2 linked regions of the Homo sapiens genome follow. The protein of the gene in region 2 binds, or shares a complex with, the protein of the main gene of each other region. Each region holds a gene or a part of one and is shown on either strand. Other genes may lie near its edges.

Evidence for each region. Proteins that work in one complex are often made in the same cells at the same time.
Region 1: the proteins of DLGAP5 (region 2) and CLTC are in contact, whole or in part, in a crystal structure (PDB 7ZX4), measured with the Homo sapiens proteins. Residues at the interface, in NP_055565.3 of Homo sapiens: Gly833, Asn834, Leu835, Ile836, Thr837, Phe838, Ser839, Pro840, Leu841; in NP_004850.1 of Homo sapiens: Val50, Arg64, Pro65, Ile66, Ser67, Ala68, Leu82, Lys83, Ala84, Thr87, Gln89, Phe91, Ile93, Lys96, Ser97, Lys98.

Annotation. Positions count from the first base shown.
Region 1 is NC_000017.11:59,614,964-59,622,911, reverse strand, and holds the start of CLTC (clathrin heavy chain 1), read right to left. Parts: upstream 3,018-7,948; 5' UTR 2,781-3,017; coding exon 2,739-2,780; intron 1-2,738. UniProt on the Homo sapiens protein: Clathrin is the major protein of the polyhedral coat of coated pits and vesicles. Two different adapter protein complexes link the clathrin lattice either to the plasma membrane or to the trans-Golgi network.
Region 2 is NC_000014.9:55,188,586-55,195,645, forward strand, and holds the start of DLGAP5 (disks large-associated protein 5), read right to left. Parts: upstream 3,001-7,060; 5' UTR 2,878-3,000; exon of another isoform or gene 2,484-2,877; intron 596-2,483; 5' UTR 595-595; coding exon 357-594; intron 1-356. UniProt on the Homo sapiens protein: Potential cell cycle regulator that may play a role in carcinogenesis of cancer cells. Mitotic phosphoprotein regulated by the ubiquitin-proteasome pathway.

The sequences.
Region 1 (7,948 bases), on a different chromosome or scaffold from region 2:
ATTTGCTGTAGGTCCAAGCTTTGATGACAAGAGATCCTTCAGTTGGACAATGTAGTTAAAGGGTATAAAAATAAGTTCATTTACAGTTTCACAAGGTAACTCTACACTCACACTTAAGTTCCCCATTTCTTGTTTCCAGTTTTTATCCTACGTGTTTCAGAAAGTTTTCTGCTACTTAGCAAACTGGTAGAAGCTCAGAGGTCAAAGACCAAAGATGCCAATTAAAATAATCCTTATTAGTTGGGCTCGGTGGTTCACACCTATTATCCCAGCACTTTGGGAGGTCAAGGCAAAGGATTGCTTGAGCCCAGGCATTCGAGACTAGCCTGGGCAACATGAAACTCCATCTCTACAAAAAATACAAAAATTAGCCAGGTGTGGTGGCTCATGGCTGTAGTCCCAGCTACTCAGGATGCTGAGGTGGGAGGATGGCTTGAGCCCAGTAGGTCAAGGCTGCAGTGAGCTGTGATGGTGCCACTGACCTCCAGCAAAAACCCTGTCTCCTCAAAAAAACAAAATGCTTATTAATTTTTAAAAAGGGAGGAGATAATGATATGAAGTTAGGAGATATATTATCATGAAAGAGGCTGTAGTTATTTGGGCTCCACAATTAATCAACTGGAGCACAGTCATATTAGCTAAGCAAGCTTAAGTTTAGGCATGACATAGCAATCCAAAACACAGAGGACTGAATTTTTCAATTTGCAAATCGCTTTATATTCAAAATCTTCAAATTATTTGAGAAGAAAATGGCTTCATTCAAGCATCTGCAGAAACTTTGATCCAGTTACAAAACAGACATGTATTAAATTTGTCTTTAATAAGTGACAAGGTTGGGTTCGAATCTTTGGGATCATTTAACAATTCTTGTCTCCTCTTTAAAAGAAATGAAAAGCTATTACTCCAACCACCACAAGATTTAGTAGTGAGCTACACATCTGCCGTGGAAAATAAAGAGCAGCTGTACTTGATTCTCTGTGTGGTTTATAAACATTTGTCTGCAGAAAGATATTTCAGATGCAGTTTAATATGAAAATAAGCCCGCGTTTTCCCCTCACACTTAAGAACAGCACCCCTCAACTCTCCACATTCATTTGCCACCCCACTTTAACAAAAGCAACCACAGCAACTAAACTTGGATTGATCAAAAAAAAATGTCCATTTTGTTATTTAACATTTTTAACCCTCTGTAAAAGTGTTTTTATTGCCAAGGTATATTCCATTACTTCAGATGAGTTATTTGAAAATTATAGATGACTGAGGAAAGTGCATTATTTAACTCATTTTATGGGTAAAAATTTATTATTCTTTACATTTCAAGCCTTAAAGGAAAATAAGTCCTTGCTAGTGCAAACATGGTAATACTTGCAAAGAAATATGAAATTATGTTACTTATAGCCTGAATGTTAAAACCTTTTATTAACAAGAATCCTTTATGTATGCTATGCCAATGGGGAAATGTAAATAAAAATGGTCTTCAATGGTAAAGTGTCTAATAGGTCACTGATATCAGTGTCATGTCAAACCACTGCATTCCCTGTCATTATGGAATTAGCCCTTCAGACGACTGAGCTGAGGCAGGTTTCTTTAAGGGGATATTTGGGAAGAAAGCAAATTAATAGGAATAAATTATTTAAGCTACAGTAAAAAACAGGATTGGTGACACAGGAAAATCAAAAGCTCTGAAGAGGTTTAATTCAGTGAAGCCTTCCAATGGTCACCTGCCTAGGCCCGCCACTGGCATGTTGCCAGATAACAATATGTTGCCTCCAGGATAAGGAACCATGGGGAAGAACTCTAGAACTTACTAAAGGGAAGCCAGTCACAGACCAAATAGCCCTGCAGGTCTCAGAGCAGCTGTGCTGTCCCCAGGGCTCTGTTCAATTCCATGCGATCCTGAAGAAGATATTCAAAACTACCTGCTACTACTCGAGAAGACTAAAAGATAACCTCTGTATCACTCTTTCCTACCTTCCAGAACCAAAGAGGGGTTAAGAGCCACAACATCCCCAGAGAAATAAAAAAAGGGGGAAGGGGAGGCGAGTTTCCTTAGGGAGTTTGACCGCACACACTCTGAGATTGACATAGCTCTAAGAAATGCGTTCTCCCATTCTACCCTCGTTCCGTTCTTTCAGTGACCTTCTGTCCCTACTGCCTCAGGGAAGGCAAGAGAAAAGCCACCGCCTCACCACCACCCCCAACCCCCACCACCGGAGAAGGTGCCTTTCTCAGTTGAGAGCCGCAGAGGGAGGGAAAAAAAAGGTTGCTCCTCCCCAACCCACCCGCCCCACAACTCCTGGGTGCAGACACGATGAGGGAAAGAGGAGAGCAATGGAAGGTGACAGCCCCGCACTGGCCCAGGGGATAAGAATCCTTGCTCTGGTAGAAACAAGGGAGAATCCCCCTCCCACTCCCCTACCCAAATGAATGAAATGAATAAAATGGGGAGAGAGTTTGTACGCGCAGTTCTGGCCATCCAGGAAGCAAGATCGAGAGGCCTTTGGATCCAGGCCTGGTCCTTGCAGCTCTTTGCACCCCAACTCCTGTCCTTTCCATCCAAGCCCCACATCATTTAATATTTTAAGCTTTCCAAGATAGTGCCCCCTCCTCCACCTACCCCAATCACCGACAACCCCCCCGCCCCTCCAGCTCCGATACTGCTCGGGCCCAGACTCCAGCGTCTTCCATCCTTCCTACCACCTTCTCCACAGCCCTCACCAGCCCGGGCCCGGCCGCACCTGGAGATGCTCCTGAAAACGAATTGGCAGAATCTGGGCCATGGCGCTGTCGGGGGTTATGGTCTCCTCCTGTCACTGGGGCTGCGGGGCAGTGGCTGCCCGGGCTCTCCAAGGGAGAGGAGGAGAAGGGGAGGGGGGAGGCTGGGCTCAGCAGGATCCTCTCCGGGGACGCAGGAAACTGGCAGGCAGACGAAAGAGCTCGGGTCGGGGGCGGAGGCTCCAGGGGCCAGGAGAGCCGCAATGGCGGAACCGGGCGCAGCGCAGACTCCGGAAACGGCTGAGCCCAGCGGAAGGATCCCGGCGACAGAACTCCGCCCAGTCGCCTCACCCCCTCCGCCTTATGTACCCCTCCACGGAGCGCCGCGCGCGGCGGGCGCAGGAATTCGGGGCGCAGTGCGCCCGGTGCCTCGCTTCCTGACGCCACATGGGGGGAAACAGAGGAACCGGAGGGACTACTTTTTTAGACTCATCACTTTCGCCAGTCTTCTCTTTCTCCCCCCACTTTTTTTTTTTCATTTTGCCACATCATGCGACTCGGGGCGACCGACGTCACTTCCGTGGGCGCTTTAGGTCCCACCCACGTACTTCCAGGTGCACGTGATACTGATGGGGAAGGGTCGGCTGATTGCTGCCAGAAATGGAGAGCTCGTTTTAAGGAAATGCGGCGTCTCCTGGGAGTGAAGAGGCTTTTGGGCCACCTTGAGGCATGACGGGTGCCGCTTCGTTTCCCTGCGACCGCTGCCTGTTTCGACTGAGCCCCTCACAGGAGGACGTGGCGGGGGCAGACGGGCGCAGCCTCCCGCCCTCTCCGTGACTCAGGGAAACGGCCTCGCCGCAGAGCGCTCCCTCGGCAGCTGGCTGCAGCACTCCTCCCCCGCCGGGCTTCAGAGTGGGTGGTTTCCTACAGCCTAGGGAGGGGGCCTGAAACGGGGTTTAAAATCTTCCCTGCCCTCACACAAGCCCTTCTGACTGTTGGAGAACCTGACGCGCGGATTCTAACTAGAACTGGCACTCTCTTCGGGTGTTAGATAATTAACTCAAAGGACAGCGAAGGCCTTTTATGATGTCTTTCAAGCTGGCCTTATGACAGCTTTTCTTAACGTTTCTGCGGACATTTTGGCGGACTTGTGTCGGCCTAGCTCAGTGATCAGTTTCGTTAAAGAATTTGAGTATCCGAACATTAAAGGATTGGACCTAAATTCTAGCAGGAGGATTTTTAGCCACATCAAATAATTTACGTCTCAAAGATTTAGATAATTAGGGTAAGGATGCTTAGTAAAACCCGAAGGTTCCATCGCGCCACTGCACTCCAACCTGGGCGACAGAGCGAGACTCCGTCTCAAAAAAAAAACAAACAAAAAAAAACCTGAAGGTTCCTGGAGGAAAGAGATGAACTATTAGCCGTGTATTTCGGTGGGACCACCTCAACATAGGTTCCTGTAGGTTAGCAATGTAGAAATGTAGCGCTTCAAAGCCGGAGCATCCTGTCTTCAAAGAGCATGAAGGTATCAACGGCATTCATTGTCGATTAATAATAACCTTTCTGGTACTTTCTTGCTAAAGTATAAGCCATAATAATATTTCATAATCGCACCAATACAATAAAGGATGAAAGACGTTAGTTCTGTGCCTTTTATCTTTGTAAGAGAGGTGATTCTCCCCCCCCACCCCCCGCCCCGCCGAAAGAGAAAAGCTCAAGTCCACAATAATTATTTTTAGTGTCCTTTTCAGTTAAAGGACATAAAACCCTATTGGGTAGACGATAGTTTTGTATGCTAAGCAGTTTAGGTTACAGTGAGAAGTTTGCCAATCATTTTAGTTGCTTTTAGTGTTTTTCCCTTTACTTAACTGTCTCACATACTGAGCATGAGAGAAGAGTCTGGCAGGTAAGAGGGCAAAGATTGTTCTGCAAAGAAAAGCCTTGCCACCATGTTGTAAGAGTGAATATTTATGCTTGCAAAATTTCTTTTTGTATTGTTAAGCTAAATACACGAAGATCCTCTGTTCCGCAACATTTGAAATAACCTAATGCCAGTCTAGTAATAACTGCTTTAAACCCTTTTTGGAAGTAGACAAATTCTAAATTAAAATTCTAAGGGAGTAATTGTTTTATTACAGTAATTCAATAGCTTGATCAAGTCACCTTTTCAATCTCAGAATCCGGAGATAAAAGAGCCGTATCATGAATGGGCCACCAAAATTTAATTAGTGTCTGGCATTTTCATACAGACCCTGTAACTTTAAGTACATTTAGAATCCCAAAAGCAGTTGATTTTAGCTATTTGGAGTGGAATATCTAACCAAAAAGTGCGCTGAGGTTGTTAGTGACTGCTACGTCATCACACATAGAAATTACACTGTTTTGAGAAATAATTTAGGAAGAGGAAAAATAGATCGTGATATCCTGGGTCATTTTGAAATGATCTTCAAATTAATCCAAAAATTTTCAAGAGAAAAAAAAAGTCAAGATGATAAACATTAAAAAAAAACCCTATGCCTTTTTAAAGATGAATAATTTGAGTAGGGTAATAAGAGTTTTTTTTTTTTTTTAATGGGAGTCTGCTGTTCTTGGTAACAGTATAAAGGCAGTTTCACTGGTTTCACTGGTTTAGTTACCTAAGCAATACCTGAATGGCACTGTTTTCAGACATTACCTCAAGTTAGAAGGGAGAACAGATAACCTAATAGACCAGGAAGCAAATCCTACTACCCAGAATGGCTTTTTCTACGATACAGTATGACATAGTCTTTTAATAAGACAATGCTATGAATGATCACTCTAGCTTTTGGTTTCAGAAAATGTTTTAGCAAGGTAGCCATGTTAATCAATGGTGAAGTGAAAGCTATTTTAGTTGGAATGCTCATCAACAGTAGACTATCATGAGTCACAGCAAGTGCCATTAGCAAAAACTACATTGCTTGGTCTGTTATTTTGAGGACTGCTAGTTTCTGAAAACCTATACAAGAAACCTGTGTTGTGTCACTAATTTTAATGTTATGCCAACAATTAGGATGGAGATATATACATATATATATATATATATATATATATATATATAAACACTCAATAGAATGACACCTCAAAACACAAACAAAAAACAAAAAAAAAAACAACCCCTTTCACTGTAGGATTTCTCCATTAGCTGTTCATCTTCAAGCAGCCCTAGCACTAATGCCCCTGCCTTTTAAAAACTTGACCTTTTAAAAACAGCCTGAATTCACTGCACTGCAAAAGTCACAAAGAAAAGGCATATCTCACATACTCAGAAATTAATTTTAAAGCAGAACTTTAATCCACTGTACCAAATGTTTACAATTCAGATTCCAATAAAGCCATAAAGGACATACTTTAGTATTATCCAAGTAAGATACTTGGTTTTGCCATTTAAACAGTAGCTTTGAAGCATCTCAACCCCCTGGGGCCACTGATATGAATCCCAGCAGGATTAGACTGGCTAGGTCTTTATTTTTTCATGCAAGATAAGGAGCAGCCTATCAAATGCCAGTAAACAAATGTACAAGTCACTGACTATCGGCAAGGCTCCCCGCTCCAAAATGAAGAAAAGAAAGCAGCATTTACAAAGCAAGAACAATTTTTTTTTTTTGAGACGGAGTCTTGCTCTTGTCGCCCAGGCCAGACTGCAATGGTGTGATCTCGGCCCACCACAACCTCCGCCTCCTGGGTTCAGGCAATTCTCCTGCCTCAGCCTCCCGAGGAGCTGGGATTACAGGCACCAGCCACCATGCCTGGCTTATTTTTGTATTTTTAGTAGAGACAGGGGTTTCACCATGTTGGGTAGGCTGGTCTTGAACTCCTGACCTCAGGTGATCTGCCTGCCTCAGCCTCCTCAAGTGCTGGGATTACAGGCATGAGCCACCACACCCAGCCCCACAAGAACAAAATTTTAATGGCATTTTAATTTTACTATGAAACGTACTTTACTCTTGACATCCACTGCGCAGGCTTGTTTTAAACCTTTAAATATTTAGACAAGTTTTATAACGTACGATGGATAGCAATAAGATCTATAGTGAATCTTTACTTTGTATCAGCATTGGGCATGTTCCAAGTGAAAAGCCAAGACTAGCTTTGTGGGGATCCAATGTAGAATGAAGTCACATTATATAGGGCCCACCCATGTTTTTGAAGGGTTAAATAAGACCCTGGCAGAGGAATGAAGTGGTTCATGACATTACCTTAAAAAGCCATTTCACAAAAGTTGGTTTAGGCAGGACATGGTGGCTCAGCCTGTAATCCCAGCACTTTGGGAGGCCGAGGCGGGCGGATTACCTGAGGTCAGGAGTTTGAGACCAGCCTGGCCAACATGGTGAAATCCCACCTCTACTAAATATACAAAAATTAGCCAGGCACCGTGGCAGGTGCCTGTCATCCCAGCTACTTGGGAGGCTGAGGCAGGAGAATCGCTTGAACTTGGGAGGTGGAGGTTGCAGTGAGCCGAGATCACACCATTGCACTCCAGCCTGGGTGACAGAGCGAGACTCGGTCTCAAAAATAAAATAAGTTTCTGGATGCCTTCAATTTCCCTTTTGTTTTTTGAACCCCCCTGCCTATTTCCCTTTCAATTCTAGACAAATTAAAGGAAACATTCCTATTATAAGCATACTTTTATATAGCACTTTTAAGAAAGGTGTTTATTAATAGGGGATTTCATATCAGAGGATCAGATAAATATGTCTTCATTTGCCACTCTACAGTGTGCCACTGCACTCCAGCCTGGGAACAGAGCAAGATTCCGTCTCAAAAAAAAAAGCTAGTTTAAATATAGCAATTCACAGAACATTGTGGATAGGAAAACCCAGGAGGATTTTAACCCTGCTGATCAATAGGGAGTCAGATGCCATGTCACAACATCTTGCAACAAAAGTCACAAGAAGCTTGAGAGCATCTATAGAATGAAGAGGTAATGAGGGTGAGAGTGTGGGATTAATTGTTAAGGGCTATTTCTTTTTTCTATTTCTAAATATGTAGAACGTTCTGTGTTCACCTCCTAGAGTTACTACTGTCTCCAAAGCAAAACATGACCCACAGATATGTTCCCTTGGGAAATGTAGAGTTTTGCCACTCTAGGGATAGTTCTGCCAGTAGCAGTGTACATCTGCAGCCTTGTTAATGGTAGTAAACTCTCACTTCTTCGCAACAGAATAGCTAAGGACTGAGATTTGGTAAAGTTTTGGTTAACTCAATAATA
Region 2 (7,060 bases):
TTGCCTTAAAGACAGTAGTTAGTTGTAGATAACAGGTTATTAAGGGGCCAGGCGCGGTGGCTCACACCTGTAATCCCCACACTTTGGGAGGCTGAGGCAAGATAATTCCTTGAGCCCAGGAATTTGAGGTTACAGTGAGCACACCACTGCACTCCCGCCTGGGTGACACAGTGAGACCCTGTCTCTTGTAATTTAAAAAAAAAAAAAAAAAAAAAAGGAAAAAGACCAAAAAGGAAAGTTATTTATAGAATGGTATTTCAAAACTCTTCTGGCCAGAGTTTTTTACTCACACAGGCATTAAACCAACTATTATTCACTCTTCAAAGTACTTAAAATTACAACAGACCTTTACTTACTTGGCTTAACATTGGTCTTTTCTGGAACAAGCCCTTGAGATGTCTCATCTAATTCAACAAGAATTCTACCTTCCAAGGTTGGAATGTTTACATCTTTCAAACCAAAGTGTCTATTTCGTTCGTATTCCTTATGTCTATTTTCTTTCTGAGACAGTGATTTCCTATGAGCAATTTTAGTTCTAATCATTTCAGTACTTATATCCTTCCTGTGTCGACTGGCAAAATGTGATGAAGACATCCTGTCAAGGAAAAGGACAAAACCCAACTTACATGAATTTTCATTATTTAAAAAATTAAGATTACAGTTCATTTCCTGTCCCACTTCAGGGCCTTCTGAAATAAAAATATAAAATGTGCAATGAAATAAATATGTAACACTGAAAAGTGAGAAGAAGATTATCAGAGAATAAGAAGCTACCTATTTGGGGGTTTTAAATAGGAACTTGCTTGACCAGTGAAGAGAAAGCCAGTAAGTGATAGTCCAGAATAAAAGAGGCTCTGGGCTTACCACAGAGAACACTGCAAAAAGAAAAGCGTGAAATAAAGGTGAAAATAGGTTAAGTGAAGGACCATGTACACAAGGGTTTCCTTACCCATGATGAGGAATGCAGGTAGTCTAACATTTCTTCTAAAGCCAAAAGAAAACCAAAAACAAACAAAAACCCCACACCAGGTACCTATTAGTCATATAGGGATAATCAATAGGCAACCGGATACAGATAGAGTTGGATAGAGAGGCACAGGGCAAAGTATGTGGAAAGGAACAAGGAGCTTCCATGCTCTCTCAGGTAGCACCACTGTTTAGGAACCTTCATGTATTCACCTAAGAAGCTCTCCAAACACAGGTGTTTTTTTTTGGTTTTTATGGCAGCTTCATTACATAAGCATGAGTGATTAAATCATTGACCACTGGTGATCAAGTCAACCTTCAGCTCCTCTCCCCTCCCCAGAGGTTGTGAGGTGGGGCTGAAAATGCCAACTCTCGAGAAATCCTGCCTTGGTCTGTCTAGTGACCAGCCCCAATCCTGAAGCTATTTAGAGGCATCCAGCTATCAGTCAATCATTAGCATACAAAAAGGTACCACTTTGAAGACTCCAAGGATTTTAGTAGTTGTTTGCCAGAAAACAGAACAAGACCAAATATATAGTTCACAATAACCCTATCAGTTTGCTCCATTATTTTCATCCATACAAGAAATCATACAGTTTAGGCCGGCACGGTGGCTTAGGCCTGTAATCCTACCACTTTGGGAGGTCGAGGCAGGACTGCTTGAGCCCAGGAGTTTGAGACCAGCCTGGGCAACATAACACGACCCCGTCTCTATAAATTTTAAAAAAGAAAAGCCATACACACACACACACACACACACACACGCACAAAATCATATAGTTTAATTGGCACATGCCTTTTTCTTGGAAAGATCTTTGAGAATGTATTCAAGCAAAACAAAAGAGGACAATAAAGACGACGTCAGTAGATCCAACTAGGGAGAACAAAGAAAATTAGAAAGTTTGAGGGGGTCACCTGTGTAGCTGGTATAGAGAACTACCAAGCCAAACTGGAGAAAGGATACTGATTCTCAGAAGTCTTGGCAGTTAAAAAACAAAAACAAAAAAAGGTAAGGGGGAGGCTCTGTGATAGACACACTATGGTATATTCTTCAACAAGAATTAACTAAATCCACTAGAAAACTCCAGATAATAGAAAAATTGGCACAAGTAATGCAATACATTGTTACATGATTCTAAGCAATCAACAAAATATAAAAAACGAGAATCTGTCTGACCTGCATGCTAATAACATTCTCCTCTAAGACCCAAGGAAAGTGACAATGGACTGTGCTTTTCATAAAGAACTGTCTTCTACTATTTATCTCCTGCAATATTAATTCGCTAAAGATTGAAGAAAAATTAAGACTTATGTATTAAATACAGGATAGCACTATCCACAGCAAGAGAAAGAGCGAGCGAGGACAACATTAAAGGTACAATTATCAGAATAACCCTGAAAGGTAGTTAACTATTATCGCTCTCATACAGATGAGGTCAATTAACTGCTCACATTAGCATATCTAAAAGGTGGTGAAGCTGGGATCCCAAGCAAGGCAGCCCTGGCTCCACACACACCTAAATTTTGTTTGGCTGAGTGGCGTTTCCTCCAGCTTGAAAGTCCAGAATGCGTTAATCTTGCTTGACTAGAGGTTCTCAACCGGGCGTTTTTAGTTGCCATGGGACCTGGGAAGAGCTACGGGAATTTAATGTCGGAGCTAGTGAAGAACAGTTTCACCCCAAAGGTCAATTACGCCCCGGTGGTGAAACGCTGACTATTACAGAGGTCAGGGCAAACATATGGACTCTTCTAAAGGCTCGCATTATCAGCTTCGGGAAGGGCAGGTAACACGGTCCTAAAGGAGCCTGCCTCTGACTTGCTCCCGCTCGCAGCCCCCGGTCCTCAGACCCTTCTAGACCTTCAACGGAAGCGGGCCAGTGTTCTCCGTCCAGCTCTCCAGCACCCACCTACCTGAGCCACCTTCTAGCGTGAAACCTCAACCAAACAAAAAGTAAAGAACACTCGGTCTGGACGACCACCGCCGACTCCGAAGCAGGAACCCTCACAACCCGAGCCTCCACGAAATTCAAACTTGCCGCACCGAGCCGCTGATTGGAGGGGCTTTAACCAACACTTCCGGGGAAGATCCCACCCCTTCCACTCAACGAGGCTTGCGATTGGTTTGCTCCGTGCGATATTTGAATTGATTGAAAGGTGAAGGGCCAGTTCAAAAGATGGGTGAGAGAGGGAAAATAGGCGGGACCGCGACGCGGGATGAGAAGGAGTGGAGCAGTCGGGGCGCTCACGTCAGGTGAAGGGCGGGAGTGGGCGGTGGAGCCCGAGGGGTGAGGCTGGGTCCCTGGCAAAGCTGGGCTGCGGGAAATCTCCCCCAGAGCTCGCAAGGCTTTTTTTTTTTTTCTTTTTTCTTTTTTTTGAGACAAGGTCTCTGTCCCTTAGGCTGGAGTATAGTGGGCACCGACCACTGCTCACTGCAGCCTTGAGCTGCTGTGTTCAAACCATCCTCCCACCTCAGCCTCCCGAGTAGCTGGGACTATAGGCGCGCACCACTACGCCTGGCTAACTTTAAAAAAATTCCGTAGAGACAGGGCCTCACTACGTTGACCAAGCTGGATTCAGGGCTTTTTAATGTCCTTGTTTAGTCACAGAATCTAGCAGACCTTCTTGGAATGTTTTCTTTACTAGACGTTTTAAAGAAAAGGCTTACCCCAATTATCAAATCCTTACATAGTTTAGCGTTACTTTTCAACGTCGCCAGCCCCCCTCCCCTTTTTTTTCTTTTTTAGTTCATTTTTTGTTGAGGCGAAGTTTTCGTATACAGTGAAAATAATAGTTTTTCCCCCCCAGTGGACAATTTGATGAGTTTGGTAAATGTAAACAGCTGTGTAACTACCACCCAATCAGGACGTAGAGCATTTCCATCACTCAGAAGAGTGGCCTGTTTCTTTCCTGTCCATCTCCCACCACATCAGCAACCACTCCTCTTATTTCTAGCACTATAAAAATGAAGGTGATAGGTACTCTTTTGGGTCTGCGTGAACCAGAAGTTAGTAGTGTTTGTTATTGAGAGGCATTCCATTGAATACTTTATGCATTCACCAGTTGATGGATTTGTATTGCTTTCAATTTTTGGTGATGATGAGCAAAGTTGCTATAACCATTCTCGTACAAGTCCTTGTGGGCATATTTTATTTATCTTGAGGAAATACAGGAGTGGAATTTCTGGGTCATTCTGGGTATGTTTAACTTAAAATTTTTTTTTTTTTTTAGAAGCAGGGTCTCTCCGTCCCCCAGGCTAGAGAGCAGTGGCACAATCATAGCTCATTGCAGCCTTGGCCTCTTGAATAGCTGGGACTATAGGCGGGTGCCGTCACCCATGTCTAACTTTGTAAGGAATTGCCAAGCAGTTTTCCAAAGTGGTTGTACCATTTTACAATTCCCACCAGCCACATATAAGAGTTCCACTTGTTTCACATGCTTTCCAGCACGTGGGGTTGTCAGTCTCTAATGTTCACCCTTCTGGCCAGGCACTGTGGCTTGCGCTTGTAATCCCAGCACTTTGGGAGGTCAAGGCGGGGGGATCACGAGGTCAAGAGATCAAGATCACCCTGGCCAATATGGTGAAATGCCGTCTCTGCTAAAAATACAAAAATTAGCCGGGTGTGGTGGTGCGCGCCTGTAGTCCCAGCTACTCAGGAGGCTGAGGCAGGAGAATCGCTTGAATCCAGGAGGTGGAGGTTGCAGTGAGCTGAGATCGCACCACTCCACTCTGGCCTGGGTGACAGAGTGAGACTCCATCTCAAAAAAAAAAAAAAAAAAAAAGAGACTGAGAATGGTGGCTCATACCTGTAATTTCAGCACTTTGGGAGGCCAAGATGGGAGAATCAGTTGAGGCCAGGAGTTCAAGTCCAGCACTGGCAACATAGCAAGACCCCATCTCTACCAAATAATAATAATAATAATAATACAATATTAGCTGGGCATGGTGGCGCACATCTCTAGTCCCACTACTTGGGAGGCTGAAGTGGGAACATCACTGGAGCCCAGGAGTTTGAGGTTACAGTGAGCTATGATCGCACCACTGTACCCTAGCCTGGACAAAAAAGTAGGAACCTGTCTCAAAAAAAAAAAAAGAAAAGAAAACTATTCTGCTATTAAGAAACTCTGATGCATTCTTCAGCATGTCAATTATATTTTTTGACCCTAGAATTTCTGCTTCTTTTAAATTATTTCAGCTTCTTTGTTAAATTTATCTGATAGAATTCTGAATTCCTTCTCTGTGTTATGTTGATTTTCTTTGAGATTCCTCAAAACAGCTGCTTTGAATTCTCTGCCTGAAAGTTCCTATATCTATGTTTCTCCAGGATTGGTCCCTGGTTCCTTATTTAGTTCATTTCATGAGATCATGTTTCCTGGATGGTGTTAATGCTTGTAGATGTTCATTGGTGTGTGGGCATTGAAAAATTAAGTATTTATTGTAGTCTTCACAATCTGGGCTTGTTTTTGGCTGTCCTTCTTGGGAAGGCTTTCAGGGTGTTTGAAGGGACTTGTGCCCCAAGCCTAATAATGCTGTGGTTTTTTCAGACTTGTAGAGGTACCACCTTGATAGTCTTGGCAAAGATCTGGAAGAATTCTCTGAATTACAGGCAGAGACTCTTGTTCTTTTCACTCACTTGCTCCGAAATAAATGGAATGTCTCTCTCTGCTGAGCCAGCTGGAACTGAGGGTGGTGGCTCACTGTGGCCACCACCACTGGGACTGTGCTGGATCAGACCTTAAGCCAGCACCTATCATGGCAGTGAGTTCCCCTAGGCCCCGGCTGTTCCCAGAGCTGGGCTGTCTGGGAGCCAGGGATTGGAGTCAGAAATCTTAGCAATTTACCTGAAGTTCTTTTTATTATTATTATTATTATTTTTTTAAGGTGGAGTCTCTGCCGCCCAGGCTGGAGTACAATGGCGCAATCTCAGCTCACTACAACCTCTGCCTCCCAGATTCAAGTGATTCTCCAGCCTCAGTCTCCTGAGTAGCTGGGATTACAGGCGTCCGCCACCACACCCGGCTAATTTTTGTATTTTTATTAGAGACAGGGTTTCACTATGTTGGCCAGGCTGGTCTTGAACTCCTGACCTGGTGATCCACCCACCTCGGCCTCCCATAGTGCTGGGATTACAGGTGTGAGCCACTGCGCCTGGCCTACCTGATGTTCTATTCTACTGTAGCTAACCTGGCATTCAAACCATAATACAAGCCCTTTCAACTCTTCCCTTCCCTTTCCACAGGCAGAGGAGCCTCTCCTATAGCCACCACCACCACCTGTTCATGGGGGTTTCTGCCAGGCCACGGCTGATGATCACATAAAGCTCAAGCATTCTTCTGTCAGCTTGCGGTGAATGCTGCCAGGCCTAGAACTCACCCTTCAGGGCAGTGGGCTCCCCTCTGGCCCAGGGCAGATCCAGAAATGCTGTCAAGAGCCTAAGCCTGGACTCGAGGACTCCCCCAAGAACCCTCTTGGTGCTCTACCCCTCTGTGGCTGAACTGGTACCTAAGGTGCAAGACAAAGCCTCCTTTATGTTTCCCTCTGCTTTTCTCAAATAGAAGGAGTCTTCCATTGTAGCCACCACAGCTGGGAATGTGCTGGGTCACCCCTGAAGCCAGCATATCTCAGAGCCCAAGGCCCACAGCATACTCGCTGGTATTGCTGCTATTCAGGGCCCAAGGACTGATGAATCCTGCCAGGACTGAGTCCTTCCTTTCAAGGCAGTAGGTTCCCTTTTGGCCCAAGGTGTGTCTAGAAATGTTGTCTAGGAGCTAGGGCCTGGGATGGGAGCCTCATCACCCTGCTCAATGTCCTATCGTACTGTGGCTGAGCTGGTATCCCAGATACAAGACAAAGTCCTCTTTACTCTTTGCTCTCCTCTACTTAAGCAGAAGGAAAGAGTCACTTTGTTGCAGAGAGCTGCACTGCCTGGGGTTTGGGGAGGTATGGCACAAGGTGTGCCAGCTGGTGTCACTCTAGGTCACTTACCATGCTAGTTCACTGGCTGTAAGGCAAGCCTAGCATTAGGAATTGCCTAGGACTTGCAGTCCTTGTGTTCAGACTGCCTTTCAGGTTTACCTAGGACCCCAGAGCACTTCA